Linked DNA regions of Homo sapiens: region 1 is linked to region 2. Evidence: fine-mapped expression QTL. A gene starts in region 2. The other region holds a variant in brackets. All regions are shown on one strand. Distances are between the middles of the regions. Region 1 overlaps CSNK1A1 (casein kinase 1 alpha 1). Region 2 holds the start of CSNK1A1 (casein kinase 1 alpha 1).

Region 1 (15,683 bases), 28 kb after region 2:
TTGTGGGGGGTAGATGGAGTTTTGCTCTTACCGCCAGGCTGGAGTGCAATGGCGTGATCTTGGCTCACTGCATCTCCTGCCTCCCAGGTTCAAGTGATTCTCCTTAGCCTCCTGAGTAGCTGGGATTACAGGCGCCCAACGCCACGCCCGGCTGATATTTGCATATTTAGTAGAGATGGGGTTTCACCATGTTGGCCAGAGTGGTCTCAAACTCCTGACCTCAGGTGATCCATCTGCCTCGACCTCCCAAAGTGCTAGAATTGCAGGTGTGAGCCACTGCACCCAGCTAGAAATCGCAGATTTTTTTTTTTTTTAGACTAAGTCTCACTCTGTGGCCCAGGCTGGAGTGCAACAGTATGATCTCAGCATGAGCCACTCCGCCCGGCTGAAATCACAGGTATTTTATATCACATTATTGTTGCAGGTATCTTAAAATATAGTTTACACTCATTACTACATCAAAATTATAGCATTTATTAGACCTGCTCCTATATTTAATGCATTAATAAGCAGAGTGTAGGGCTGGGCACTGTGGCTCACACCAGTAATCCCAACATTTTAGGAGGCCAAGGCAGGCGGATCACGTGAGGCCAGGAGTTCAAAATCAGCCTGGCCAACATGGTGAAACCCTGTCTCTACTAAAAATACAAAAATCAGCCAGGAGTGGTCGCATATGCCTGTAATCCCAACAGGTGGATGAGGCATGAGAATCTCTTGAACCTGGGAGGCAGAGACTGTAGTGAACCAAGATCACACCATTGCACTCCAGCCTGGGCGACACAGTGAGATCCTGTCTCAAAAAATAATAATAATAAGGAGAGTATGTATATTACTATATCCCAAATTCCTTTTTTTTTTTTTTGAGATGGAGTCTTGCTGTCACCCAGGCTTGAGTGCAGTGGCATAAGCTCGGCCCACTGCAGCGTCTGCCTCCTGAGTAGCTGGGATTACAGGTCCCCACCACCATGTGCGGCTAATTTTTTGTTTTTTGTTTTTTTTTTTTTTGTATTTTTAGTAGAGACAGGGTTTTGCCATGTTGGCTAGGCTGGTCTCGAACTCCTGACCTCCAGCGATCCACCCACCTCAGCCTCCCAAAGTGCTGGGATTACAGGCTTGAGCCACTGCACCTGGCTCAAAATTGATTTTTTTTCTTTTTCTTTTCTTTCTTTCTTTTTTTTTTGAGACAGAGTTTTGTTCTTGTTGCCCAGGCAGGAGTGCAATAGCGTGATCTCGGCTCACTGCAACCTCGGCCTCCCGGGTTCAAGCAATTTTCCTGCCTCAGCCTTCCAAGTAGCTGGATTACAGGCATGTTAATTTTGTATTTTTATTAGAGATGGGATTTCTCCATGTTGGTTAGGCTGGTCTCGAATTGCCGACCTCAGGTGATCCGCCCTCCTTGGCCTCCCAAAGTGCTGGGATTACAGGCATGAGCCACTGTGCCTGGCCCCAAAATTGATTGTTTAGAAGTAATTTTATGCTAGTTCAATTTCGCTATAATTGATTTTCTTTATAATGCCTTGTATTTTATGCATTTAAAACATTCTGAGAAGAGATGTATGGGGAGAAGAGGTATCTGGTTTTGAGAATACATCTGTGTATAATGAATGGCAAATAGCTGTTAAGAATGGCATATACAAATATGAATGTATAGGAAAATTGAAAGGATTTTAGAGAAAAGGGAACAGAGTAGCTGAAACTTTTTTTTTTTGTTTATGTGTTCTTTTTTTTTTTTTGAGACAGAGTCTCGCTTTGTCATCCAGGCTGGAGTGCAATGGCGAGATCTCAGCTCATGGCAACCTCTGCTGCCTGGGTTCAAGCAATTCTCCTGTCTCAGCCTCCTGAGTAGGTGGGACTATAGGCGCCCACCACCATGCCCAGCTAATTTTTGTATTTTTAGTAGAGACGGGGTTTCACCATATTGGTCAGACTGGTCTCGAACTCCTGGCCTCATGATCCGCCCGCCTCGGCTTCCCAGAGTGCTGGGATTACAGGCGTGAGCCACCGCGCCTGGCCTGAGTAGCTGGAACTGTTAGCAGTAGTATCCTAAAGAGACAATTTGAGTTAGTTCTTACGGTTCAGCAAGATCTTGCTAGGCCAAATTCCTTTTCTGCTCCCATTAAAAAGGAGCATAAAGGTTGGATAATGATGGGCTGGCAAGAGACTAAGTTTGAGAGACAGTATCTTCAGGATATCTTGTAGGTGCTATTAAAATTGGATATATTATAGCACTGATTCAGTGTTGATACTTTTTAGTTGTTCACTGAAGACTCTGACATTAATAACCGAAAGATTGGCAAACGACTTTTTAACTTTTATAATTATTTGGCTTATTTGAACTAGGGATAAATAGATGCTTCCTGATGTCTTCACTTGGAGTGCAGGGAGTGTTTTTGCATTTCTTGTTTTGTTTTCCTTATCTGCCAAATCAAGCACTCCCTACACTGTTACAGCTTCTAATATGAGTTTTCATTATTTTACTCAGCAAATGTTTTGAGCATCTCTTGTGTATGCTGGGAATACAGATTGTGAACAAGACAAATATAATGATTGCCCCTAATTAAGTTAATAGTCTGAAGGGGAAGATCTACATTAAATTTTTTTTTTTACTGTTATTTTGTCCTGGTCATGGTGATGGAACTAACATATATTTGGGTAAAGTGCATATTACAATAATTACACTGATTTATTCTGGAATATTCTGGGTCTCATAGTAATACTTAAATATTTTTATATGAAAAATATGTATTTTTTTTCTCAAATACTCCCATTTTCATGAAGACATTTTTCAGAAAAAAGCAAACCCCTAGCTTGAAATCTCCGGCTATAGTATAACACTTCCTAATTGGTAACCATGTCATTGTCATTCCTTCCCCTGGTCCTCCATTTCCATATTGTATACTGATGCCAAGGCTAATAATTACTGATTTTAATTATGTCTCAGCCACAAACTGTAGTAATAGTTCACCCAATTATTTACAGCATGTAAAGCTCATAAGCCTTGCACTGAAGAACCTATACTGCAGCTTCAATCTATCTGCCACCTTGACTCTTCCCTTTATGACAGCCCATGCCCCAAAATGGTTTGCCCCTGCCTGGTAAGCCCTTTTCTGCCTTACTTATCAAAACACTGTTCATCCTTCAGGATCTGACTGGTAGCAGACTATTTTCCTAATACCTCTTTAGACAGATTTAGTTCTCATTGATCTTTTGTGTGAATCATGTTAGCATTTTTTGTCAGCCTCATTGACTTTTGCATGTATTGTCTTACATTTGTGCTTTTTGTGTATGTCTTAATTTTTAAATTGGATTTAATTTGGATATGCGTTTAGAGGAAAGGACATAAGAGCAGAGAGATAGACCTTGCCTTCTCTTGGCATTATCTTCAGACCTTAGATACTTTTTTTATGCTGTAAGTAAGTAATAATGGTTGTGTAAATTATGAACTCATTCTTCAGCCTAGTTTTAGGTAACACTGAAGTCTAAAGGTATAGATTTGAAACAAATGGAAAATGAGATCCCCGAACATTTTATCTTTTTAAAATTATTATTTTCACTTTCACCCATTAAATTACTTGATTTTTTTTAATGTTTCGTAACTTAGGAAGAATAAGGTCCAAATCAACTGGAATACTTTTTTTAGTCTCATAATTACCTGAGTACCTGCAATATGCACATCACTTTACCACTGTACACTTAGTAGCAACACGTCTTGTACTTAAAAATGTCTAAAGGTAAGACCTGTGTTTCTAGTTTGAAGGCCTAGAAAGTAAATGAGTGAGGTTTTTGTGTTGGTGTTTCAGACTATAAACTTAAATGGCCTCAGAGAATCGGGTTAGTGCTTGTTCATGACTCAGGTTCTGTGAAAAGGCTATTCAAATAAAAATAAAGCTGTAAGCTCTATCCTACCAGGTATAGAGACAAACACCAAAGTTACAGTAGATGAGTATTGTCAAGGGGTTAAGACTGTGGACACAAGCAATAGTTAATGGCTTTGGGAATTCTAGGAAATAGGAGACCAATGTGGGATAGGTGACATTAGGAAGATTTCTTTGGCATCTGGGTTTTAAGGTTGGGATTGAAGGTAGAGAAAAGCTCTCAGAATAGACGTGGGAAGCATGGAGGTGAAGGTAGAAACTAAGAATAAGTAAGATTGGAATAAGCAGAAGACCATTTCTGGTTCTGAATCTGTGTGTGATAATGTCTGAATGAGTTAGTCCAGATGGAAGAGCACAGATGGAGGGTGTGACGTTCTAGCTTTAGAGAATTAAGCTATATATTCCTTGAGACCAAAGGAAGTGTGAAAGATGTAAACTCCTGTCTCTTAGGTTTAAGGAGTTATAGTACCAGTCCATAGAAAAGAAAGTCCTAGCTGTTTTAGAACTGCATGGTTGCTCCACAAGGTAAAATGCCTTTGAGACGCTTATTTTTTTTTAGCTATTTTCAAGGAAGTATTTAATCCTCCTGACTTTGAGAATAGTGAATATGTCTTGTGTTCATAAATTTAAGCAAGGATGAAGAATGCCCAATAATGTGTGTGTGTTTTAAGTGTGCTTCTCAATTCATCTAATTCTTCCCAGTTTCTAACTATTAAGGGAGTTAGAGGCTTACATGCAGGTGATTTTGTTAGAGGCTTACTTTGCAGATGATTTCTTTATGAAATCATGTTAATTGCATGAAAATATAAAGTCTGAATTTGTGCCTTTTACATTTCAGGTTTGTGTTTGGGCTTAGATGGATGGTTATAACATTTGCTTGTTTTTTGTAGTTTTACATCTGAGCCATCAGTGGAAACCTGTCTAGAGCTGAGACTTGGTCTTATAAATAAGAGTTGATTTATGCCTTCCCTTTTGCCTATTTGACTTTTTGCGCCTTCTTACTTCCTTAGCTCTTTCTGGATTTGGTGTTCTCGTTTTCTTAAAAGCCTAGGTAAATTATATTTATATTAAACAAGTGTTGAACGTTTGTAATGGTAGGTTCGTGACAGATCTCTAGTCCAGATTTGCCTATCACATAAAAAGGAAGAGGGAAAATAACAAAAGAAAATAAAATGAGGAAAAGGGAAAGGAGAACCCAGCTTATTTGCTTTATCACTTACCTTTTAATACTGTTATTTATGTATTACCCAAAGCATCACTGTGAGCTTCTTTCAAGTAAATGTTTCAGCGAATGTGAAAGGTGTTGAATTCCCATAGGGAGAATAAAGAGTGGAAGAGGGAAAATAACAGCAGCTTTAGTATGCTGTTTTAAGCAATAAGGACAAAACTGGCTCTTCTGGCCGGGTGTGGTGGCTCAAACCTGTAATCCCAGGACTTTGGGAGGCCAAGAGGTGGATCAGCTGAGGTCAGGAATTCGAGACCAGCCTGGCCAACATTGTGAAACGCCGTCACTACTAAAAATACAAAAATTAGCTGGGCGTGGTGGCAGGCGCCTATAATCCCAGCTACTTGGGAGGCTGAGGCATGAGAAGCACTTGAACCTGGGAGGCAGAGGTTGCAGTGAGCCAAGATCGCACCACTGCACTCGAGCCTGTCGGACAGAGCAAGAGACTGTGTCTCAAAAAAAAAAAAATGGCTCTTTTGCTGTCACGTTGACACATTTGTTTCCTAGCCTAGTGGGCAAGACCTCTAGAAAGTTAAGCAGAACTTTTCCCTTACTGGGTTATCTTTTTCTGCAAAGAGGATGTGGAAATGGATTTGATTTTGTGTGCTTGGCAGTTATCCATGTGTCAGGTTTGGGAAGTAGTTCTCAAGAACAACTGAAGCAAAAGTCGTAGGAAGGAACTGAACTTTTTGGCTTATAATCCTCTTAGGATCTCTTACTCTCAACATAAGATTCTAGGGAGCATATTTATTATACCTGACTATGAGACCTATCTGAATAGATCTGAAATTAAAGCTGACTGATTTGAGGCTCCCCCCCCTTTCTCAGGTGCTATGCCTGAAATTTCTGCAGTTTTGGTAGATGCCATCAAGGGTTAATGGGTGCCCAGGACCACTAGTTAGAATAGACTCTTTTCTTAAAGAAGAGCCACAAGAGTAGCACATCTGTATAGTTATCTTTGCATTTTCTAGAAAAATATTCTTAAAAGATTAAATCCTCATACTCTAGTTTTAATATTGATTTTCTTGAATCATTGGCATTTATCAGCAAAGCAGGAAATGGCACTAAACAGTTTCCTACTTGACTGATACTTGTTATAATTTTGACACAGATTTTAGTTTTCTTAAAAAGCTGGTGAGGTACAGTGGTTCAACTTGTAATCCCAGTGCTTTGGGAGGCTGAGGCAGGAGGATCGCTTGAGTCCAGAAGTTAGAGACTAGCCTGGGCAACGTAGGGAGACTCTGCCTTTACAAGAAATTTGAAAGACCATGTCTCTACCAAAAACTTTTTTAAAATTTAGCTGGGCATGATGGCACGCCTGTGGTCCCAGCTACTTGGGAAGCTGAAATAGGAGGATTGCTTGAGACCAGAAGGTCAAAGGCTGCAGGAGTTGTGATTTGCCACTGCACCCCAGCCTGGCAACAGAGCGAGACCTTGTCTAAAAATAAATGAATAAATAAATAAATAGATAAATAAGGAGGAAGGAAGGGAAAGGAAGAAAAGCCTGTTCTCCCCTTTTGAATATTTTTAAAACATAAGCTTTCCAGATATGGTAAATTTTGGGATTGGTTCTTATTGGAGTTAACAAAGAAATGACTGCAGTTTAAGCTTTAAAATAACTTTTTAAACAAAATTTTAAGTATCACCTGATTTTCTTAGCAGAATTTAATATCTAGAAAAGTTTGAAAGAAAAGTGGTAGTGCTTATTTTAAGGAAAGTACTCTTACCAGAATCATAGGCATCAAAATTTGAAATAATTTATTGCAGTGATTTTCAGTCCTTGGGATAAATGAAATTGGCAGTTGATACTTCTTATTAGGGACACATTGTATACAGTAATACAGCCCAGGATAATTAAAACATGATTCCAGTTAAAAGCAAATAAATGTCATTACCTTGTGTTATATGGGTTATTTTCTGTGATCTGAAGCCAAGGAAAAATGTGACTCCTTTTTGAATAAGGACAAGTAATTATTGATTAAATGCAATTTGGTAGGAACTGGAATCGAAGTTCAGATAAAAGAAATCTTTGCTTTCTGAAACATTTTGGAATGACTGATAGAGTCATCTTCATTTCTTCAGTTACAAAGTAAATTCAGGTGAGATTAAGGAATTTGGTAAAGGCCATAGGAATCAGTGGCCAGTGGGTATAAAATTCAGCTGCCCTGGTAACAGGAGTGTTAAGGCTACTATGCATGTCCTATCTATATAGGAGAATGGAGTTGCATGACAGGGAAAAAAAAAAGTCTCATTACCCTTGTTTTGTCTTTGGGCCTTGTAGTTAATTAGTGGGTTTGTCTTCTGAGTAGGGGAACATTCGCCTTATATAATACCTAGTCAGTGAAAGAAAACTATATTATTCTTAGGGTTGATGATATTAAGTAATAGCTTTTTGTAATATCCTCTCTTCTCCTTTTGTTTCGTTAGGTGGTATGGTCAGGAAAAAGACTACAATGTACTAGTCATGGATCTTCTGGGACCTAGCCTCGAAGACCTCTTCAATTTCTGTTCAAGAAGGTTCACAATGAAAACTGTACTTATGTTAGCTGACCAGGTATGTGAAATTTTGATTAGAATATAAACTGAGACTAGTACTGTTGACTGGAATTTCATTATTCATAAATCAGAGTATTAAAATCCTGTGCATCACTATTTAACCTTAGCATAGGCAGAAAAAAAATAATAATGTGACTTGTAGATATTTTCCTATGGGAATAAGACAAAACCTGGAATTATCTTGGTTTCTTACTCATCTGTAGACTAGTAGTTTTCAATCTGCTCCTTCAGATGAAGTTTTAGTGTCATATGTAGCAGGTTATTGTAAGATTTTGTTTGGAGAGTTTAGAGTGTATGTATGCATATAATTGTTGATAAATGTTTATTGACATTTTGGTTAAATTAAGCAAAATTGAATATTATGTATTATGTGTGGGACTCTTAGAAAAGCTATATTTTTGAGGATAAAAAGGTCCTGAAGTAATATAAGGAAGAATTTTTTGACCAAGTAGATGCTGCTTGGAGTAATGGATTCTCAACCATTTGTGTTACTTAAGACCTAGGAAATTTTGG[T/A]GATGTCATGAATTAGATTGATGCATTGGCTGTAGGTTAGATTAAATGGTTTTTACAGCCAAAGTTTGGATATTTCGATCTTAAGAAATGAGAAAGATGAGTAAGGAACAAACCTTAAGGGAAAAGATAATACATTAAGGTAATGATTGGTAAATATCAAGACATGTATAATTTTTTGTTTTGATCAGTATTTGTTACCTTTAAGGGCAGGAAAATGCTGGAAATGCTTTAAGTTAAACTCAGTGTGCTTATAAAAATACTATGAAGAGAATGACATTTAAAAATATAATGGAGGGTTTGTGACAGCTCTCTAGTCCAGATTTGCCTATCACATAAAAAGGAAGAGGGAAAATAACAGAAGAAAATAAAATGAGGAAAAGGGAAAGGAGAACACAGGTTATTTGTTTTATCACTTACCTTTATTTACTTTATCACTTACCTTTTAATACTATTATTTATGTATTACCCAAAGCATCACTGTGAGCTTCTTTCAAGTAAATGTCATAAAGTAAAATGAGATAAACAGACATGGTATTTGAGGTGGAATTTTAGTAAGTTTGTAAATTCAGAGGGATGAAGAGAAGTAGGTTAATGGGCACAAAAATACAGTTAGGAGGAATAAGTTCTAGTATTACATAGTATAGTAGGGAAATTATAGTTAACAATAGCTTATCGTTTATTTCAAAATAGCTAGAAGAGTAGAATTGTAATGTTCCTAACACAAAATATAAATGTTTGAAGTAATGGATATCCCAACTACCCTGATTTGATAATTACACATTGTATACATGTAACAAAATATCACACATACCCCATAAATATATACAACTATTATAGATCAATGAAAAAACTTTGTCTATAATTCCAAGGATTAGAAAGTAGTGCCCATTTTCTGTAATCAGCACCTGATACTCCCCAAGCTTCTTAACCTTAAAAGTACTCAGTGGCTCAAGCAAATGTGAGCAAATTGTGATATTTGTGGCACAAAACAAACTCAAGCATTAAAAGGTTAAAAGTGGCGCGGCACACTGGCTCACGCCTGTAATCCAGCACTTTGGGAGACCAAGACACGAGGATCTCTTGAGCCCAGGAGTTCCAGGCTACAGTGAGCTATAATAATGCCACTGCACTCCAGCCTGAGCAATAGAGCAAAGACCCCATCTCTTTTATGTTAACAGCCTTTAATGTGGGCTGGGTTTGGTGGCTCATGCCTACAGTCCCAGCACTTTTGAGAGGCCAAGGCCGGTAAATCACCTGAGGTCAGGAGTTCGAGACCAGCCTGGCCAACATAGTGAAACCCATCTCTACTAAAAGTACAAAAATTAGCCAGGCGTGGTGGCTGACACCTGTAATCCCAGCTACCCGGGAGGCTGAGGCATGAGAATCACATGAACCCAGGAGGTGGAGATTGCAGTGAGCCGAGATCGCACCACTGCACTCCAGCCTGGGGGATAGAACGAGACTCTGTCTCAAAAAAAAAAAAAGCCTTTAATATGTTTTAACTAACATATATGAGTGAATCCTAATAAAAGAGTTATGGCTTATGTTTTTGTTTGTTCAGTAACACGTAAGCATCCATACATTGAACATGTATTGAGAGCCTACCACTGTACTTAGTGCTGGGGGTTGGGGTGGCAAAAAAATAAGAATTAGTCTCTTCCCTCTAGAAAGAAACTTAGAGTCTAATAAAGAAAGATGGAAAAATAAGATGTTCCATCCTTGTTGTAGAGTTGTAGAAGTCTCTGTTGGGTACACGGGTAACAAATGTGAAAAAATATAATTCTGAGGAAGGGAGATACAAGAAAGCTTTCATTTAAGGTAGTTGACACCTAAGTCTTGCTCTGTGGTTGACAGGTAACAGGTGTAAGTTGTTCAAGCCAGAGATTACTAGTTTGGCTTCAGAAGACATTTGTCAAGGTAGAAGAGTACAATTTAGAATCTGTGTATTCATGATAATAAAAGCTCTGGGGAAAATGGGGACAAATAAAAAATAGAATCCTAACAGATACTACTGGGTAGAGCAAGAACATATGGACAGAAAGATAATGTTGGCAGTCTTTGGATATGTAATCTATTTAAAAATACAACTTCTAAGTAAGTGTCTTATAGAAAAGATAGAGGCTGGGTGTGATGGCTCATGCCAGCAATCCCAGCACTTTGGGAGGCAGAAGCAGGAGGATCACTTGAGCTCAGGAGTTCGAGAGCAGCCTGGGCAACATAACGATACCCCCCTTTCCACAAAAAATACAAAAATTAGCTGGGCATGGTAACGCGCATGTCCGTAGTTCCAGCTTCTCAGGGGGCTGAGCTGAGAGGATCACTTGAGCCCCGGAAGTTGAAGCTGCTGTGAGCCGTGATCTCGTCACTGCACCCCAGCCAGGGTGACAAAGTGAGACTCTGTCTCAAAAAAAACAAAAAAACACAGAACTTCTATTGTATACAAGAAATGCCATAAGCAGTCAAAATAAAAAATAATTTAAATTTGTTTACATAATGACAGATAAAAGATTGTTTGTTTTATGACGAGAACTCCTAAAAGCTAACAAGAAGACAATAGGCCGAAAGAAAAATAGGCAAAGAGTGGAGCTTGACAGTACATAGAAGAGTAAATCCTCATAGAAGGGCCAGGCGCAGTGGCTCACGCCTGTAATCCCAGCTCTTTGGGAGGCCGAGGCAGGTGGATCATTTTAGGCCAGGAGCTGGAAACCAACATGGTGAAACCCTGTCTCTACTAAAAATAAAAAAAAGTACCCAGGCATGTGGCGGGTGCCTGTAATCCCAACTACTCGGGAGGCTGAGGCAAGAGAATCGCTTGAACCCAGGAGGCAGAGGTTGCAGTGAGCCAAAATTGCACCACTGCACTCCAGCCTGGGCAGCAGAGTGAGTGAGACTCTGTCTCAAAAAAAAAAAAAAATCCTCATGGAAGGATTACTTCTAAATCGAGGCCGGGCATGGTGGTTCACACCTGTAATCCTACCACATTGGGAGGTCGAGGCAGGAGGATCTCCTGAACCCAGGAGTTCAAGAGCAGCTGGGCAACATAACGATATCCCGTCTCTACCAAAAATTAAAAATTAGCTGACACAAAAAAATTAGCCAGGTGTAGTGGCATGCACCTTATAGTTTCAGCTACTCCAGAGGGTGAAGTGTGAGGATCACTGGAGCCTGGAAGGTTGAGGCAGCAGTGAGTTATGGTTGCTTCACTGCACTTCAGCCTAGGTGACAGTGAGACCCTGTCTCAAAAAAAAAAAAAAAAAAAGAAGAGTAAATCCAAATTGTTACAGCCTATTGTGGAAGGCAGTGTGATATTATCTATCAAAATGAAAAATACACCCTTCAACTCAGCAACTCCCCATAATTATATGGGATTTGAAGCCCATAGAAATAAAAGCACTAGTGGGTAAAGATACATGTCTATTAATGGCATTATTTATAGTAGGAAAAAGTGGAAAACAATGTGAGAATACTGTGAGTTGGGGAAGACATAACATCTCTACCACAGAATATTTGTAGCCATTAAAAAGGATATTTGAGCTATAGCGTTTGACTTTGCATAATTTCCAAGAAATTAAGGAAAGCTTTTAAGAATGGCATGTTTAATATTTAACTTTTGGAATGAGATTATATAAGAATTATAACAACTACTTATAGCTTAATCTGCCAATCTGTCAACATCCTCCACTCCCAAGTATATGTGTATCTGTTTGTGTGCATATGTATATCTTATAACATGGAATTAGGTCTGGGTAATACAAGGCCATTTTAACAGGTTACTTTAGAAGGCCTAGGATTGAGTGTGGAAAGTTTTTATTTTATTTCCTTTATTGTAGCAACTGAAACTATTATACAGGTATTCCTTTTATTATTTGAAAATCACAAACACCAAGTCTTCCTATGGGGTTAGACCCTGCCATGGTTTTAATTATTAATACTAGAAGGTAAAGCCAAAGGACACAGCAGGTATATGCTTAGATATCCATTAACCTAGAAATAAATGGAGAACTTAGTTGTCCTTTCCATTTCATTTTCTTTAGCGCTGTCTTTGTGAACTCTAAATAATTGAGATACTGAAATACTTAAGAAATGTGTTGATTTTCATTTACTACTTAACTCAATTATCTCTCCCTTCTTTTTTTTCCAGATGATCAGTAGAATTGAATATGTGCATACAAAGAATTTTATACACAGAGACATTAAACCAGATAACTTCCTAATGGGTATTGGGCGTCACTGTAATAAGGTTAGTCAAATGCTCTTTGCATGAAAGAACAAAGAGTAAAGTTTCGACAAGAATTGCTTTGGTAAACTTTTCAATCTTTTAAAAAGCCATAGTAAGTTGAATTTGCTGTTGACAGTTGCTTTAAAAGATTGTGCTATGAGGATAATCAGCTAACTCCATTAACTTAGTAACTTGAAATAAATTATCTTCAACTTACCCAACCGAGGTTAGTTACCTATATGGAAATATAAAATTCTAAGGGCTGTATAATGAACTGTAGTTGTCTAAGTTATTTAACTGTTGAACAGTTGTATCTATTTTTCATTCACAAAAATAGCAAAAACCCCCATATTCTTTTCTTCCTGAATGCTTAAAACCAGATTTTAACCTTTGGCTCTGAAGTGTGGGTTTTTATAATATATGTGCTTGTGCCAGTGTGGGAACACTGACTTATCTGTCACCATGGTGTTAACATTTGCTGACTGAGCATGGTTGATAATGAGAATTCTTCAGTCCTTGAATTTGTGTATTTAAAAGGGTAACTTTTGGGCCTGCTTCAAAAGTAGTTGACAGTTTTTTACTTGGGTGCCAAATTGGGTGAGTTCTCCACCCCTCCCTCTCCCTTTAAAGGAAAATGTAGACAAGTGAAATGAACATTCATACAACAAAACTAGTGTTCATTTGGGGTCTCTGAGAGTGGTTCAACTTATGGGGTGATTGGGTTTTAGCTAGTGGCGCATGATTGCAGTTAGAAACTAATTGTGTTGACTTTTTTTCTGTAATGATTAGTCTTACTGAGTGAATTGCTTTCTTTATCGATACTATGTTGAGCTCGGGCAGACAGGCAGCATTGGCAATGCACTAAGCATGTTGTGATCTGATGATCTATCTGATAGAAATTCTCAACTTCAGGACAACTTGGGGGCTTTTTTTGTTTTTTTGTGGCTTTTTTGTTTTGTTTTTGGAAGGAAGATGCCCATTTGTTTTACTAAACTATTAGGAAATGTTTGGTGTTTTTAGGTCTAGCTATAAATGTTTACCTTTGTTTGCCTGTATGAATGCCAACTGGGAGACATTACCATTAGAATTGGTGTTATTTGTCAATGTGAGATACTGATGTTGGTCTGATTAGGTTTTAGGAAATTAAATTTTTTTGTTGAGCTTTAAATAATGAAAGGTGTTTAAATATACACATAACTTATCTTGTCATTCCCAAGTTGCATTAAAAAATATTTTATAGCTTTTCTCTGAAGTATCCAGGTTTTTATTACTGTAAAGCCTGGTAATTCAATTGAAAAAAAAATTACTGTTCTTAAGTTTTGGGGCAGTTTTGTCCATTTGACTCCAATCTTCTTGGCCATTTCCCAGCCCTCTCCTTCCTGTTTTCTTACCCCCTAAAAACCCATTATCACCATGTGATTCCTATTCTGCATCGTTGACATTGCAGTACGTGGTTTTTGCCTTAAATTTAAATGATGACCTAGATATCACTTTGCCTTCCCCCCCTCCCCCACAACCCCCTTAAGAATAGCTTGTTAATCGCATAGTTGTCTTAAGGAAGTGTAAGTTATCTAGTGGTGAAAACCTTTTTAGGAGGTTTAGGTCTCCTTTTCTCCTTGAGATATTAAAAATAATTTTGTGGAGCTGCTTGCTGCTTAACACTGTTTTAGAGAGGCCATGGGGAAGAAGCAAAGTGTTTTACTCAACTAAGATTCAAATGCTAAATGTTGCTCTTGAACATTTTAGATTAGTGTTTTGTTTATGTAGTTGATTTTTAGTGTTTTCTGTATTGTAGTTTGAAAAATGCCAGTTGTATGAGACTGGATTCTTTGGTCAGCTTGTTCCAGTAGTTTTCTATTCATGGGGAAAAAAAGGTTTTGGGGGGCTTTTGAGGACAATTTTTAAAGTTAAATTTCTTATTTGGAAAATTGTTCTGAATTTGATATTTAGGAGTGGCCACTCCAATCTTAGTGAATTTGCTCATCTCTTCCAGTAATCAGCCCTGCATGCTTACGAAAATAAATTTTAAGGTGACTAAATGCCTTCTACCTCTTCCTTACTGAAGATTTTTTTCCCCCGTACAATATTTTTTTGGGGGGGAAGGGCAGATTGTGGTACCAAAGATTGCAGATCTAAATTCCCCATTTTTGATTAAAAATATAAAAGAGCCAAATGTCACCATTGCTATCCCTGTTTCAGGCAGTGACACAAAATAGTGGCATTAAAAACCTGAGTAATTTCCAGAATTCAAATGTTCTTGAGCATGTGATTCTTATTTGGAAAACTGAGAAGCTACAGTGCTTGGTGGAAGAAGGATGGCATTTGGCTACCCTGTTCTTTCTCTAATGCCTCGGTGTTGCCTGTCTGCGCCGGCCATTGTTGCAATGTAAGCAATACTGTTTGATGCACTGCCACCCTCTATTGTCTGTTTAGTGTTTAGAATCTCCAGTGGGGAAGAGGAAAAGAAGCATGACTGTTAGTACTTCTCAGGACCCATCTTTCTCAGGATTAAACCAGGTCTGAAACTGTCTCCTATTCCAACCTCAATCCCAAATTCATGTGCTTTTCTTTTTTATTGTTTTATTTTGATGATTTTTGTTTTGTTTTAATTCTGGAGAATGTAGATCTTGCTCAAGCACCTCTTACGTTGGCATTATTCAGACATACTTGGCAAACATAACATTACTAAGATATTTCTTTGTGGCTTTTGCTTAAAACTTATAAAGTTTAGAAAAAAGCTAAATGAAAATAGGATATTATGTTTAGCTCTCTAACATACATATGAGGAAATGATGTTGGTCTAGTACTGAAATTGTTTACCTAATAGTAAACTTGAGATAGATCGTTAGTTTTTAAAAATTTATTTGGAGTTACACAACTTAATGCACGAAATATATTTAAATTCAGTTCATTAGTGCTGTATAATGAATATATTCTACCTCACCTCTCTTCCCCTTCCCTAAGGAACTTCAGGTAAGTGTAGATCAGATTTCAGATCTAGTGTTTCTAGAACTTATTTCCTCAGTCTGTATTCTCAACTTCTAGCAAATGGATATTTACAGAGCATTATAGGCTCTGGAACTAGAAGATACTGCATTCTTAACAATATAACAATAACATAGCTTAAGCACTTATCAAGTTATATGGTAGATTACCATTAGTAATACATTGAAATATATTAAATTTAGTTTTTGGCAGGCTGGATAAACACCCTACTAATTTTCTAAATTTGTAAGTAGAACTCTTCATATTTTGTTACACTTTTGTTGAAGTTAAATAGCTTTTTTATCACAAA
Region 2 (15,683 bases):
TAGCACAATATTTTTAAAGCAATCTTAAAATCTGACATCTTTTAAAAGATTACAACATTGAAGTCCAGGAAAATATTTAAGGTAGAGTCACAATTAAAATCAGATTTCCTGACTAAGGTCAGGATAACATTTTCTGACATAATTTAACCTGTCCTTAAATACCCAACTAAAGGGATAATTTGGTTTCTCTTCTCCCACCCCAAAATAATTTTTAAGAATAATATAGGCCAGGTGTGGTGGCTCACGCCTGTAATTCCAGCACTTTGAGAGGCAGAGGTGGGCGGATCACCTGAGGTCGGGAGTTCGAGACCAGCCTGACCATCATGGAGAACCTCGTCTCTACTAAAAATACAAAATTAGTCGGGCGTGGTGGCGCATGCTTATAATCCCAACTACTTGGGAGGCTGAGGCAGGTGAATCACTTGAACCTGGGAAGCAGAAGCTGTGGTGAGCCGAGATCATGCCATTGCACTCCAGCCTGGGCAACAAGAGTGAAAATCTGTCTCAAAACAACAAACAAAAAAACAAACAAAAAAACATGAGATTACTTTTTCTCATACTTGGCTCACTGTAGTTTTGATTCCGAAGACATCTATTCTGTTTTCCAGGAAACTCATTCTCTTTACCCCACCCCCTGCTGCTTGCTTCCACCGAATCTAAGAATCTATAGAACTCAATTGCTTCACTAATGGGCAACAAATGTGTCTTGTTAGCTATGTCATAAAACAGACATTTTTAATAGCATGAGCACATCCTTGCAAACAACAGACTTGCAAAATTCTTGAGATTTTGAAATTGGGGGGAGAGAGAGAATAGGGGAATTGCACAATTAAATGTATTGAGTTTTAGAGCAATATGCTGGTCAGAAAAGAAAACCTAACAATCTCTTTTAAGTCTGTAAAGATAAATGAAAAGATTGAATAGTCCATGAATACGGGTTTAATCACCACAAACTATATCAAAACATAATTGGAAATTGTTGTTTATGATACAAGGAATTTTAAGAAGAGTAGCATTTCTAGAAATATATCCTAAACCACTTAATTTTAGATGCCAGCAAAGATTTAGCTACAGGAATATTCATTACAGCATAGTTTGTTTATATTAGCAAAAGTTTGGAAACAACCAGAATACTCAACGAGGATTGGTTAGATGTTGTTCCATCAATATGATTCATTATTAACATATGGACATTAAAAGTGATATTTCAGAAAATTAGTTATATGGAAACAGGTCTCCGACAAATCACTACATGAAAAACACAGATCTCAAAACAAAATGTATACCATGACTAGTTTTTGCACATTTGTTCCCCGCCAAGACGGAGTCTTGTTCTGTCGCCCAGGCTGGAGTGCAGTGGTGTGATCTTGGCTCACTACAACCTCTGCCTCCTGGGTTCAAGCAATTCTCCTGCCTCAGCCACCCGAGTAGCTGGGATTACAGGCATGTGCCACCATGTCTGGCTAATTTTTGTGTTCTTGGTAGAGATAGGGTTTTACCACGTTGGCCAGGCTGGTCTCGAACTCTTGACCTCATGATCTGCCCACCTCGGCCTCCCAAAGTGCTGGGATTACAGGCGTGAGCCACTGTGCCTGGCCAGTTTTTGCAAATTTTAAGAAATGAAAAATAAAATACGTACTTATATTTTTTGGGACAAGGTCTCGCTCTGTTGCCTGGGCTAGAATGCAGTAGTGTGATATGCAGATATACTGATACACATACACATATATACATATGCATAGAAAAATGCTGGAATTTTATACAGCAAAATGTTAACATTTGGTGATTACCTCTAAGAGATTTTTGTTTTTTTCCGATTTATCTGAATTTTAGAAATTTTTCAATGTCACATTTATAAGGAAAGGAACAGTAAATATTTTATACATATAAAAATATATATACACACACACACACACACACACACACACACACACACACACACACACATATATATATGGTTTTTTAAAGATCATTGGGTTGTCTGGTTGGGCACAGTGGCTCACGCCTGTAATCCCAGCACTTTAGGAGGCCGAGGAGGGAGGATCACTTGAGCCCAGGTATTCAAGACCAGTCAGAACAATATGGTGAGATCCCCTTCTCTAGTTCTTTCTTTCTTATTTTTTTGGTGAGAGGGGGACTGAGTCTCGCTCTGTCGCCCAGGCTGGAGTGCAGTGGCACAATCTCAGCTCACTGCAACCTTTGCCTCCTGGGTTCAAGCCATTTTCCTGCCTCAGCCTCCTGAGTAGCTGGGATTATAGGCGCAAGCCACCACGCCCAGCTAATTTTTGTATTTTTAGTAGAGACAGGATTTCACCATGTTGGTCAGGCTGGTCTCGAACTCCTGACCTCGTGATCCGCCCGCCTCAGCCTCCCAAAGTGCTGGGATTGCATGGCGTAAGCCATGGTGCCCGGTCAGTCCCTGTCTCTATTTCTAAGAACGTAAAAAAAGAAAGAAAGAAGAAAAAAGGGCCGAGCACAGTGGCTCATGCTTGTAATCCCAGCACTTTGGGAGGCCAAGTCAGGTGGATCACCTGAGGTCAGGAGTTTGAGACCAGCCTAACATGGCAAAACCCCGTCTCTGCCCATCTCTACTAAAAATATGATAATTAGCCAGTCGTGGTGGCAGGCACCTGTAATCCCAGCTACTTGGGAGGCAGAGGCAGGAGAATTGCTTGAACCCAGGAGACAGAGGTTGCAGTGGGCCAAGATCGTGCCATTGCACTCCAGCCTGGGCGACAGAGTGAGACTCTGTCTCAAAAAAAAAAAAAAAAAATTATTGGGTAAACATATAGAACTTACCAATCTTTAGAATCTAGAAGCTATATGAATCAAAAGAATAAATATATTCAAAAAATAACATTAATTGAAATAAATGTATGGTTAATTAGGCCATAAAAAGTAAGCAATACATGCAGTCTCAAATGGGTTTGAAGTTGCTAACTGTGGAAGCTAAAGCAACTCCTCCTGGATGGGAGGCTAAAGCAACTCCCTGTTAGGCCAGGTGCAGTGGCACATGCCTGTGGTCCCATTTACTTGGGAGGCTAAGGCAGAGGCTTGCTTGAGCCTAGGAGTTTAACGCTGCAGTGAGCCATGATCACACTACTGCACTCCAGCATGGGCAACAGAAGGAGACCCTGTCCCAAATAAATAAATAAATAAACAAACAAACAAACAAACAAAGCAACTCCATCTTGGAAACTAAGCCACCATTTTGGCTTAACTGCAGTTCCAGGAAGTCCTTGAAAATTCCCAGTTTATCTATGTTCCTTGTGTAACAGCAGATATTTACTGTAAATCCTACTCTTAGGTCAAACAACTTTGATGTTATCCACTTCAATTGTCCTACAGGTCATATCTGAACCATTCCTTTCCCTGTGGTATATAAGTCCTGGGTCTCGGGCGTAATGGCATGGGTATCCACCATCTTGGTTTCTGTTCCTTGAACTCAATGGCTTCTGTTCGAAGTCCCTATTAAATGTTTCTTTCTTAAATACTGTATTTGTCAGCTTCTTCCTTCAGCATCCCAACTTCCTCAGACTTTGGGGTACTTTTGCACAGACCTAGCCACCGCAAAACACTGTCATAGATGCAGCAATCCACTTTCACAAAACCCCATGGACAATGCAGAGGGGGAGAACAGGGACTGATTAAAGAAAGGGACAGAAATGGCATCACTATCCAAGACTGAAAAACAGGCTGAATGGATTATCACTCTGACCCAACTGCACATTTCTAATGTCTTCATGTTTTCAATTACTCCATGAATTCCCTTATCTGATGCTGATTATGCACAGGACTGTGTAAGAGTTAAACAACACCTGACACTGGTGACTCACACCTGTAATCCGAGCATTTTGGGAGGCTGAAGCAGGTGGATAATCTGAGGTCAGGAGTTTGAGACCAGCCTGGTCAACACGGAGAAACTCCATCTCTACTAAAAATACAAAATTACGGCCAGGTGCAGTGGCTCATACCTGTAATCCCAGCACTTTGGGAGGCCGAGGCAGGTGGATCACCTGAGATCAGAGGTTTGAAACCAGCCTGGTCAACATGGTGAAACCCCGTCTCTACTAAAAATACAAAATTAGCTGGGTGTGGTGGCACATGCCTGTAATCCCAGCTACTTGGGAGGCTGAGACAGGAGAATCGCTCGAACCTGGGAGGCGAAGGTTGCAGTGAGGCAAAATTGCACCATTGCACTCCAGGTTGGACAACAAGAGCGAGACTCCATCTCAAAATAAATAAATAAATAAATAAATAAATAAATAAATACAAAAACTAGCTGGGCATGGTGGCATGTGCCTGTAATCCCAGCCACTCAAGAGGCTGAGGCAGGAGAATCACTTGCACCCGGGAGGCGGAGGTTGCAGTGAGCTGAGATCGCGCCACTGTACTCCAGCCTGGGCGACAGAGTGAGACTCCATCTCAAAAATAAATAATAAATAAAATAAACAACACTTGGGACACTGACGTTTCTAAGGCATTCCATTTTTCTATTTACTTGCACCAAACAATTCTAGAGATTGGCAGGCTACCCTTCTGTTTTTAGCATCCATCTAGACTTCTTGTGCTTGTCTCTATCATTTCACTCAAAGCACATTCTGGATACCAGTGACCGTTGCTTGAGTAAACACTGTGGCTTAAAAAAATGGTTTTTGTTTTTATTATTTTAAAACATTTTTGTAGTGATGTGGTCTATGTTGCTCAGGCTGGTCTTGAACTCCTGGCCTCAAGCGATCCTCCTATCTCAGCCTCCCAAAGTGCAGGGATTATAGGCATGAGCCATCACACCCAGCCAAGAAAAAAAAAAGTTTTAAAATTCATCTTGAATTCCCTACGAACACAGAAGTAATCCCTGGGACATGATTGTCCTAATTTGTGTTCTACTCTTTCCTTTTTCTCTTTCTTTTGGTAGTAGTTGTGGCTCTAGTCCTGTCACTGCCACTAAGATCTCTATGATTTTGGGCAAGCCACTTTGTCTTACTGGGGCACAAATGATATGTGTGAAAGTACTCTAAATTGCAGGCTGGGTACAGTGGTTCTTGCCTGTCATCCTAGCGTTTTGGGAGGATGAGGCGTCAGGATCACTTGAGTCCAGGAGTTCAAGACCAGCCTGGGCAACAAGGCAAGACACTATTTCTACAAAAAGTTAAAAAAAAAAAAAAAATTAGCCAGGCATGGTGGTGCCTGCCTATAGTCCTAGCTACTGGGGAAGCTTGAGGCAGGGGGATTGCTTGAGCCCAGGAGGTCTAGACTATAGTGAGCTATGGTGGTGCCATTGTACTCCAGCCTGGGTGACAGAGTGAGACTTTGACTCATAAGTAAATTGCAAAGCATTAAAAAATACAATTATTATTATTGAACTAGGTGATCTCTGTATTTCCCTCAAGGTCTAAAATTTTTATTTTTATTCTACACTTTTGATATTTTTAGTGAATTCATCTGATCTAGAAGCCAGAAATTGCTCTTTGAAGACTCCTTTCTTTCTTTCTTTTTTTTTTTTTTTTTGAGACAGAGTCTCACTCTGTAGCCCAGGGTGGAGTGCAATGGCACGATCTCAGCTCACTGCAACTTCCGCCTCTCGGGTTCCAGCGATTCTCCTGCCTCAGCCTCCTGAGTAGCTGGGACTACAGGCGCCTGCCACCACGCCCGGCTAATTTTTGTACTTTTTAGTATAGACGGGGTTTCACCATATTGGCCAGCTGGTCTCGAACTCCTGACCTTGTGATCCGCCTGCCTTGGCCTCCCAAAGTGCTGGGATTACAGGCGTGAGCCACCGTGCCTGGCCTAAAAGACTCCTTTCATTACACCAAAGCTGCTGCTGATTCAATAAGTACAGAATGATTTGTGACTTTAACAGCAACACCAAAAACAGGTTATTCTTCAATCTTTTAGGCTAAAATTACTGCAAATGATACATGACTTTAAGAAGAAGGCTGAGTCATAGCCAACACCTGAGGACTTCATTTTCTATGTAAAAAAAAAAAAAAACAATTTTGCCATTCTTAAATCCAATAAATTTAAATCTTAAGAAACTAAAATCACATTTGAAAAGGCTAGACCCACTCACATCTCATTTTTGTGCATTTTGCTGGGCACTGTCAGTGTTGGAATGGTGACTATAGCAGGCAGGAAACAAAGGAGGACTCATACCTTATATACAAAATTATAGAATCTCAGGGTTAGAAGGGTTTCCAGAAGTCATTTAGACCAGTAGAATTTAATGGGCTTACACAAGTTCTAAAAAAAAGGCGAGGAGGATTAGACATACAAGTACCTATCATTCATTCATTCATTCATTCATTTATTGAGACAAGGTCTCACTCTGTTGCTCAGGCTGGAATGCTGTGGTTTGATCATAGCTCACAGCAGCCTGGAACTCCTGGAGTCAAATGATCCTCCTGCCTTGGCCTCCCAAAGTGTTGGGATTACATGCATGAGCCACCGTACGCAGCTTTCAACTTTTTTTTTGAGACAAAGTCTCACTCTCTTGCCCAGGCCGGAGTGCAGTGGCACAATCTCGGCTCACTGCAATCTCTACCTCCCCAGTTCAAGCGATTCTCATGCCTCAGCCTCCCAAGTAGCTGGGATTACAGGCATGCGCCACCACGCCCGGCTAATTTTTGTGTTTTTAGTAGAGACAGGGTTTCACCATGTTGGCCAGGATGGTCTCGAACTCCTGACCTCAGGTGATTGCCCTTCCTTGGCCTCCCAAAGTGCTAGGATTACAGGTGTGAGCCACTGCACCCGGGCTCAACTTTTAACCGAGCAAGAATATTTTAAAAACCAAAACCATCTACCATCGGCACCTTTTTATAAAAGAGCATTTTAATGACACATATGTGAAAAGACTAAATCTCAGAATGAAATATAATGTGAAATCAGATAAATAAATGAAAGATGTATTGCTTACTTTTCTCACATCCTCATGGCAAACTTTGTTAGCCACTTGCACCTGTCCATACACAGATCTTTGGGAATCACTAATTTAGACCACTTCATGCCCACCCTTACCCTGCCCCCGGCTTCATTGAGCATTTTTATCACAATACCAAAATATCCGTCTAAATGTATACCTCATCCCCTTATGGAGAACTCCTCAAGCTGAGGAATCCATTAAACTTTGGATGTGTGTGAGAAAATTAGCAGAAAAGGAGTGATCTCTGGAAAACTCAAGATGCTTAAACTTGGCTTTTTTTTTTTTAAGACCAGAATTGATTAATTAATTAATTTTTTAGATGGAGTGGAGTCTCGCTCTGTCTCCAGGCTGGAGTGCAGTGGCACGATCTCGGCTCACTGTAACCTCTGCCTCCCAGGTTCAAGCGATTCTCCTGCCTCAGCCTCCCTAGTAGCTGGAGCTACAAGGCACATGCTACCATGCCCAGCTAAGTTTTGTATTTTTAGTAGAGACAGGGTTTCACCACGTTGGCCAGAATGGTCTCGAACTCCCGACCTCAGGTGATCCAGCCGCCTCGGCCTCCCAAAGTGCTGGGATTACAGGTGTGAGCCCACCATGCCCGGCTGCATTTTATATCAGAATTTAACAGCAGATTTTAACTTAGTCAAAACATGCTTTAGAGTCACCAAAGGAGAATGATGTCTAACAGTGCTGATTTGGGAGTTGGGCACCCTGAGTGTTGGTTGGGCTTTAAAAACTTCATGCTAAACTTCAGGGGAAGTCTCCTCCCCTCTCTCTTCAGTTGTCTTCCGAGATGAACCCTATTACTAATTACTTGACCACCTTTCAAAGTTGCAGTTAAAATTCTTCACATTTTTCTCCCATTTCTATTTAATTAATTATTTTTTTTTTGAGACAGGGTCTCTCTGTTGCCCAGGCTGGAGTACAGTGGCGTGATCTAGTCTCACCGCAACCTCCGCCTCCCGGGTTCAAGCGATTCTCAGACTCCCGAATAGCTGGGGTTACAAGTGTGCGCCATCACACCCGGCTAATTTTTGTATTTTTAGTAGATACGGGGTTTCATCATGTTGGCCAGGCTGGTCTCGAACAACTGACCTCAAGTGATCTGCCCGCCCCGGCCTCCCGAAGTGCTGGGATTACAGGCGTGAGCCACTGCGCCCGCCCCCCATTTCTATTTTAATTAAATTTTATTTAGGATAGGCTTAGCTTAAATTTTTACGACTGAGGTCTGACTTAAGATGATAGCATCAACCATGGAGTTTTCTTTCGTGAACATTATTATTACTAAGCCCAATTTTCCCAGGTCAAATTTTGTAAAACAAAACGTGGTCAAAATTTGATTCTCTGATCGATTTTTTGTAAAAAAGAAAAAAATTACCGTGTAGTTTTAAATGTTGTCAATTAAATTTTGTAATAGTTACCTCTACTCTGTTCAGGTTAATACTGAGGTTTTCAACAAGACCAACATACGATTCTTTTTTTTTTTTTTTTTTTTTTTTTTGGTGGGGTTGAGGGGACATAACAGTTTTTTCACTCTTGTTAAATTAATTTTCTGTTGATTCCATCTATCCTTAATCTTCATTATGAGCAACATACCAGGTTTTCTTCTGAAGATCATATGTGGTAGTGAGGCAATAATGCAAAGACATAGGATGGCAGGGGGATTCCGGCTTCTTTCTTTCTTCCCCTCCTGTGGAAAGAGGGTCTATAACACTCCGTAGTAGATAGGACAATTCTAATTATGAAGGGTAATTAGCTAGGCTCTGCTACAACCGAGAGCCCTGAGAGATTCCTCGACGCTGGCTGCTTTTCTCTTCCTCTCCACCAGAGGCGACAGCCTCTTTCCAAACAGAAACTGGGTTGGAATAGGCCGGTCCGGGGGAACGGCCAGAAGAAAGATCAAAGGTTAAAAACCGCCTCAAAGAGCACAGGTCAATACCCAACTCCTAAGGAGGCCTTAAGCTTTCATCTGCCACGAAACATGAAGGTGACTCCTCCCAATATCAAGGCCGGGGGGCCACTCAGCCTTCCAGAGACCCGGCGGGTCCGAGGCGAGTAACAGGTAACACCTGCTGAGCCGCCGCCGACCGGAAGTGGAAGAGAGCCCGGGACGGGGGTGAGGACAGGCCGCGGCACGCCTGCGCAGTCAGCAGGAGTTGCAGCGCTCATGCGCAGCTGGGCGGTGACAGGGTGACGCTCGGAGCGTGGGCCGCGACTCTCACGGATCCGGTTCCGCCCTCTCGCTGCCGATCCTTCGGAGCGAGCGCCCGAGATCCCTTTCCCAGAGTGCTCTGCGCCGTGAAGAAGCGGCTCCCGGGGACTGGGGGCATTTTGTGTTGGCTGGAGCTGGAGTAACAAGATGGCGTCGTCCGCGGAGTGACAGGGGTCCCTCTGGGCCGGAGCCGGCGGCAGTGGTGGCAGCGGTATCGCCGCCCTAGCTCACCGCGCCCCTTTTCCAGCCCGCGACGTCGCCGCGCAAGCGAGGCAGCGGCGGCCGCCGAGAAACAAGTGGCCCAGCCTGGTAACCGCCGAGAAGCCCTTCACAAACTGCGGCCTGGCAAAAAGAAACCTGACTGAGCGGCGGTGATCAGGTTCCCCTCTGCTGATTCTGGGCCCCGAACCCCGGTAAAGGCCTCCGTGTTCCGTTTCCTGCCGCCCTCCTCCGTAGCCTTGCCTAGTGTAGGAGCCCCGAGGCCTCCGTCCTCTTCCCAGAGGTGTCGGGGCTTGGCCCCAGCCTCCATCTTCGTCTCTCAGGATGGCGAGTAGCAGCGGCTCCAAGGCTGAATTCATTGTCGGAGGGAAATATAAACTGGTACGGAAGATCGGGTCTGGCTCCTTCGGGGACATCTATTTGGCGATCAACATCACCAACGGCGAGGTAATCATCTGGGGTGGGGTTCACGATAACGCTGCGCTTTTACTCATTCCCCCCACCACCACCGTGCACCCCCAAAGTGCTCGGGCCTCTCCTCATCGCACGCACTCGCCAGGGAGTCCAGGGAGCTAGTTTTCCTGGCTTACGAACCTCGTCCGCTGTCTCCCTAAAAGGGTCAAGAACCCGATAGAAAGGTTGGGGGAACTAGTTTCCCACCTTGTTAAACACGTCCCATAAATGTCCCTTAGTCGAGCTTTTTTTTTTTTTAACCGTCTTTTAAGGTGGAAACGGCAAAATCCTCTTTCAGTGATTCCCATGTTTTTTTTTTTTTAATTCTTAATTCTACTGGGCCTCTTGTTCCAATTAGAACAGTTTCCGATCGCCTAGTTCCTTAAAAACCTCTCACTACGTTCAGAGGTTGCCTCTTTTTTCTGGATGAATCATTTTCCTGCACTTTAGAGGACGTACGGATTTCGTCACTACCCCCTGAAGAGGCCTTTGAGGCTGGTTGCCTCGTTTTATAATTACCGAGAGCTTTCTCTTTCCAGCTTTTCACTTCTTCTTGTAGTCGCGACTTGGAGTTTTGCTAATGTCTCCCTCCTTTCCTAAGTGACATTGAATCCGTAGGGATGTTGATGCCATCATCCCCTCTTTCCCCTGCAGGAAGTGGCAGTGAAGCTAGAATCTCAGAAGGCCAGGCATCCCCAGTTGCTGTACGAGAGCAAGCTCTATAAGATTCTTCAAGGTGGGGTTGGCATCCCCCACATACGGTAAGAACCCGGTGCATATAGGCGATCCGCTGAGGGAAGCACGGAATGGGGAAGTGGGTAGAGGCAGGTAATGAGACCAGCTGAATCCGGGTCTTGGTGTTTTAGTTACCTGGGTTCCCTATAGCTGGTGGTTTCCTGTAAGTCAGTCATCTCAATTACTGAGTAAATTTCAGTTTGCCAACTTATTTCATTGTATTACACTGCTCCATTTCGCTTCCGTCATTCTCACTCTTCCCGAGGCTTTCATTTGCAGTTATGCGTGCAGGTCATCTTTGATCCCTACGCGGAAGGGTTGGCTGCTGCCTTTTTTACGGCGGCACTTCTGATGTACTTAGGTTTGTCCAGTGAAGTGGATTTGAAGGTGCCGAAGCGACCCGGCAGTGTCAGTTCGAGTTGCTATTGGAGCTGGCTTGGGAAATGGCTGCTCTTTTGTTGTGTTTTTGTTCCAACATGTCTTCCTCCTCCGCTTAGAAAATGGCGGAACGACGTGACTCAACCCCATATTCCTGCCCTTTTCTCAGCTTGAGTTCACAAATTATGCTTCCTTGATTCCTCCTTTAGCAGCCCCGAGTGGATTAAACCTTTGAAAAGCCAAGAATAAAGCTGCAGGAGGCGGTGTGGAGGTTCGAGGAAGGAGATGGCATAGTGACAGTGTTTGTGATCTCTGCAGCAGATGTGACACGAAATTGTTGAATTACACTATGTAAAATCCTTCGTAGTTCTTTTAAAAGTGTTAATTACTCTTTCTTTTCGTGAATGGTCATATTTGGCACGTTTCAGTCGGGACTAAATTTGTATAGGTAGTGGCAAAGGCAGTTTGAGCAGCACCAACTATGTTAAAATTTACTCATATCAGTTGTATTTAAAAAAATCTTAATCACTTAGCCACACTTTGATAAGTAATTTTAACCTGTTGAGTTTGTCAGTAAATCTTCACATCAGAGAAATTGGGGCCTTTGTTGGTGTGGAATATTGGTGAGTGCAAATAGCAGTAACGAGGATAAAAGATGACGAGATAGACATTGTTCTGTCAAATGGTTAACTTTACTTTGGAGGGTTTTAATGTTTTAACTTTTGGGATTAAAGATCCTCTTCATGGAATGGAGACTAAAATATAGTTTAAAGCCCAGCTATTTTCCAGCAATAATCTAAAATAACATTTGCAAAATTATTCAGAATAGGTAAGAATGGTACTTACTGTTTACTGGAGCCTCTTCTTTAAGACGGAGTTTTCGCTCTTGTGGTCCAGGCTGGAGTGCAATGAATGGCACGATCTTGGCTCACTGCAACCTCTGCCTCCCGGGTTCAAGTGATTCTCGTGCCTCAGCCTCCTGAGTAGCTGGGATTACAGGCGCCCGCCACCACGCCTAGCTAATTTTTGTATTTTAGTTTCACCACGTTGGCCAGGCTGGGCTCGAACTCCTGACCTCAGGTGATCTGCCTGCCTCGGCCTCCCAAAGTGCTGGGATTACAGGCATGAGCCACTGTGCCCGGCTTTTTTTTCTTTTGAAACGGAGCCTTACTCTGTTGCCCAGGCTAGAGTGCAGTGGCGCAACCTTGGCTAACTGCAGCCTCCGCCTCCCAGGTTCAAGTGATCCTCCTGCCTCAGCCTCCCAAGTAGCTGGAATTGCAGAGCTGCACTACTACGCCTGGCTAATTTTTGTATTTTTAGTAGAGCTGAGGTTTTGCCGTGTTGGCCAGGCTGGTCTCCACCTCCTGACCTCAGGTGATCCACCTGCCTCAGCCTCCCAAAGTGCTGGGATTATAGGCGTGAGCCACCGGGCCCAGCCTGTTAGCCCCTTTTTCTATTCCAGTTTGTATTTTTCATGTCTTGAATTAAGGACTGGGTTGCATAGTCTTTACATGGAAACAACTCAAATAAAACTGTCCTTAAAAAGAGTTCCAGCCAGGCGTGGTGGCTCACGCCTGTAATCCAAGCACTTTGGGAGGCCAAGGCAGGCAGGTTACTTTAAGTCAGGAGTTCAACACCAGCCTGGCCAACGTGGTGAAACCTCGTCTCTACTAAAAATACAAAAATTAGCTGAGCATGGTGGCACGTGCCTGTAATCCCAGCTACTCGGGAGGCTGAAGCAGGAGAATAGCTTGAACCCGGGAGTCGGAGGTTGCAGTAAGCTGAGATGGCGCCACTGCACTCCAGCCTGGTGACAGAGCGAGACGCCATCTCAAAAAAACACAAAAAAACACAACAAAAAAAAAAACAAAGTTCCAATGCTGATTTACAGTTTTAATGGAGAATTGAGTGATAAAATGTGCTATTGGTTGTAAATGAGCAAGTAAATCATTTGGAAGAAAGTTGCAAATTTATCTTATGAGGTGAAGATTAAATCTGAGATGATATAGATTTGAAGTTTTTAAATCATTCTTGCCTTTAAAAAAAAAACCTACTATGTGGGAAAATAAGGCCCCTCACCCCTGATTTGCTTTCCATTACTATAGTTTTTCCTAGAATTTCATATAAATGGAATCATACGATATGAGGTCATTTGTGTCTGGCACTTTTCACTTAACATAATGTTTTTGAGATTCATCTATGTTGGGAGATTTTATAAATTTCACAAATCAGGTTAAATTTAATGTATTTGAAATCAGTTTCAAAAAGCATTAAGCATTGTCATTTTTCAGTGCTAAACCCAAGTACAGTACATGTCCTTTTATCTGGTAGCTTTTATTTAAGACCTGATACAGACCCATAAGGGCAATGAGTAATGTACTGAATAAGCACATGAATAAATTAACTTCTGAGCAGAATTATAGTAATAGGTGCCTATTATAAGGTGGTGAGTGCAGAGAGAGTTATGGTAGTTATAAGCTGTCTGTGGGTGAGGCTAAACAGATTAACCTGACTTTCAAGTTAAGGCTTCCTGAGAGATGGGATTTCAGGATCTGGCTCTAAGGAAGAAAGCTTGGTGAACTGGTTTGGTAAGGCATCCAAGAATAGAGTGTGGCTTCTGGGTGTAGTCTCTAAAGGAGAACACAGTAATTGGATGAGAGTGTGGAAAGGGTAAATTTGCTTTAGGAGTGGTAGGGTCAGGTACATGGAAACAAAAGTGGTTCATTGGTTTTAAAGTGAAATGTAAAAAAAAAACTGTTTCCACTGAAGCAAAAAGGATAAAGATTTATGTAAACATTCTTTATTTGGGTAGCAGCATCTTCCCATCCCCCTCAGTTTGTTCCCCACTATTTCTGTATCACCTATACATGGTACATACTTAATAAATATTTACTCGGAAAGTATTGAATTAAGTTGACTATTTAGTGTTAGCTAGATAAAAGTTATGTGTTATCTATTGTTTTAGAAGTATTGTCACTAATTTAAAAAATTTAGATTTTGCTGCCTTTATCCTTCATATACAAATTTGTTCAATCCCTTCCCTATGTTTTCTGTTACAAAATTCCCTATAGGATTTGCTTTTTTTTTTTTTGACATGGAGTCTCACTCTGTTACCAGGCTGGAGTGCAGTGGTACAGTCTTGGCTCACTGCAGCCTCCACCTCCTGGGTTCAAGCAATTCTCCTGCCTTAGCCTCCTGAGTAGCTGGGACTACAGGCACGTGCTGCCACGCCCAGCTAATTTTTGTATTTTTAATAGAGATGGGGCTTTACCATTTTGGCCAGGATGGTCTCCATCTCTTGACCTCGTGATCTGCTCGCCTCGGCCTCTCAAAGTGCTTGGATTACAGGCATGAGCCACCGCACCCAGCCAGGATTTTCTTTAAGATACTTTGGTATATCTTACAACAGAGACTGAAAATTACCTGGCCTGCGTAGATGACCTGCTGAATCAGGTCCTTCCTGTGTAATTTGAGAGACCTATTGTTAAGAAGCATAGCATCCTGAGTAAAGAGCAAGGATAAGCCGGGCGCCATGGCTCACGCCTGTAATCCCAGCACTTTGGGAGGCCGAGGTGGGCAGATTGCCTGAGCCCAGGAGTTGGAGACCAGCCTGGGTAGTAGAGACAGGTGAAACCCTGTCTCTACTAAAATACAAAAAAAAAAAAAATTAGCCTGGTGTGGTGGCGTGCGCCTGTAGTGCCAGCTACTCAGGAGGCTGAGGCAGGAGAATTGCTTGAACATGGGAGGCGGAGGTTGCAGTGAGCCAAGATCGTGCCACTGCACTCCAGCCTGGGCGACAGAATGAGGCTCCGTATCAAAAAAAAAAAAGCAAGGATAAGAGAATGGCATCCATTTTCTTGATATTTTAAGAAATGAAGCTTCCGGTTCTAGGCACTTGGAGAGCCGCGGCTTAAGGTACAGACATGGCCAAGTCCACGAACCACACCACACACAACCAGTCCTGAAAATGGCACAGAAATGGTGGGCTCCAGGTTCCTGAGGAACATGCACTTTGCCAAGAAGCACAAGAAGGGCCTAAAGAAGATGCAGGCCAACAATGCCAAGGCAATGAGTGCACTTGCTGAGGCTAGCAGGGCCCTCGTAAAGCCCAAGGAGGTTAAGCCCAAGATCCCAAAGGGTGTCAGCTGCGAACTCGATTGACTTGCCTACATTGTCCACCCCAAGCTTGGGAAGTGTGCTTGTGTCCGCATTGCCAAGGGGCTCAGACTGTGTGGGCCAAAGGCCAAGGATCAACCAAGGCCCAGGCTGCAGCTCCAGCTTCAGTTCCAGCTCAGGCTCCTCCCAAAGGCTCTCAGGCCCCTACAAAGGCTTCGGAGTAGGTATCTCTGTCTGCCAACGTGAGGACAGAAGGACTGATGCAACCCCCCTGGGCTGCCGTCTTTATGGGGCTGGGGTCCTCCTGTGCTATTAGTACAAATAAACCTGAGGCAGGGGAAAAAAAAAGAAAGAAAATTCTTGGACCTTGTCAATTAATATGTGAGAGCTCACTTAAAATTACAGTTGACCCTTGAACAGTGCTGGGGTTAGGGGCACTGAACCCCAGCCCACTCCCACTGTGCCCCACAGTCAGGAATCCAAGTGTAACTTTTTTTTTTTTTTTGAGATGGAGTCTTGCTCTGTCACCCAGGCTGGAGTGCAATGGTGTGATCTTGGCTCACTGCAACCTCTGCCTCCCAGGTTCATGGGATTACAGGCGCGCCGCCACACCCAGCTAATTTTTGTATTTTTAGTAGAGACGGGGTTTCA

What was found. PIP is the estimated chance that this variant, and not a neighbour inherited with it, causes the effect. A credible set is the group of variants that fine-mapping cannot tell apart.
Region 1: its variant is the best candidate, but not a certain one, in a credible set for the expression of CSNK1A1 in whole blood (INTERVAL, PIP 0.69).

The regions. Positions count from the first base shown.
Region 1 is chr5:149,517,016-149,532,698 of GRCh38, reverse strand. CSNK1A1 (casein kinase 1 alpha 1) reads left to right here. Exons shown (of 10, transcript NM_001892.6): 3 at 7,528-7,654; 4 at 12,311-12,409. Among named protein-coding and RNA genes, the nearest start is that of CSNK1A1, 27 kb to the left of the region's middle. RefSeq lists an enhancer at 9,058-9,227. The variant T/A (reference allele first, on the strand shown) is at 8,170.
Region 2 is chr5:149,544,956-149,560,638 of GRCh38, reverse strand. CSNK1A1 (casein kinase 1 alpha 1) reads left to right here and starts at 9,200. Exons shown (of 10, transcript NM_001892.6): 1 at 9,200-9,797; 2 at 10,458-10,564. The coding sequence starts at 9,675. It also overlaps the pseudogene RPL29P14 and a transcript of ARHGEF37 not described here. RefSeq lists enhancers at 8,623-8,692, 8,250-9,043, 8,743-9,412, 9,443-9,502, 9,633-9,692 and 5 more.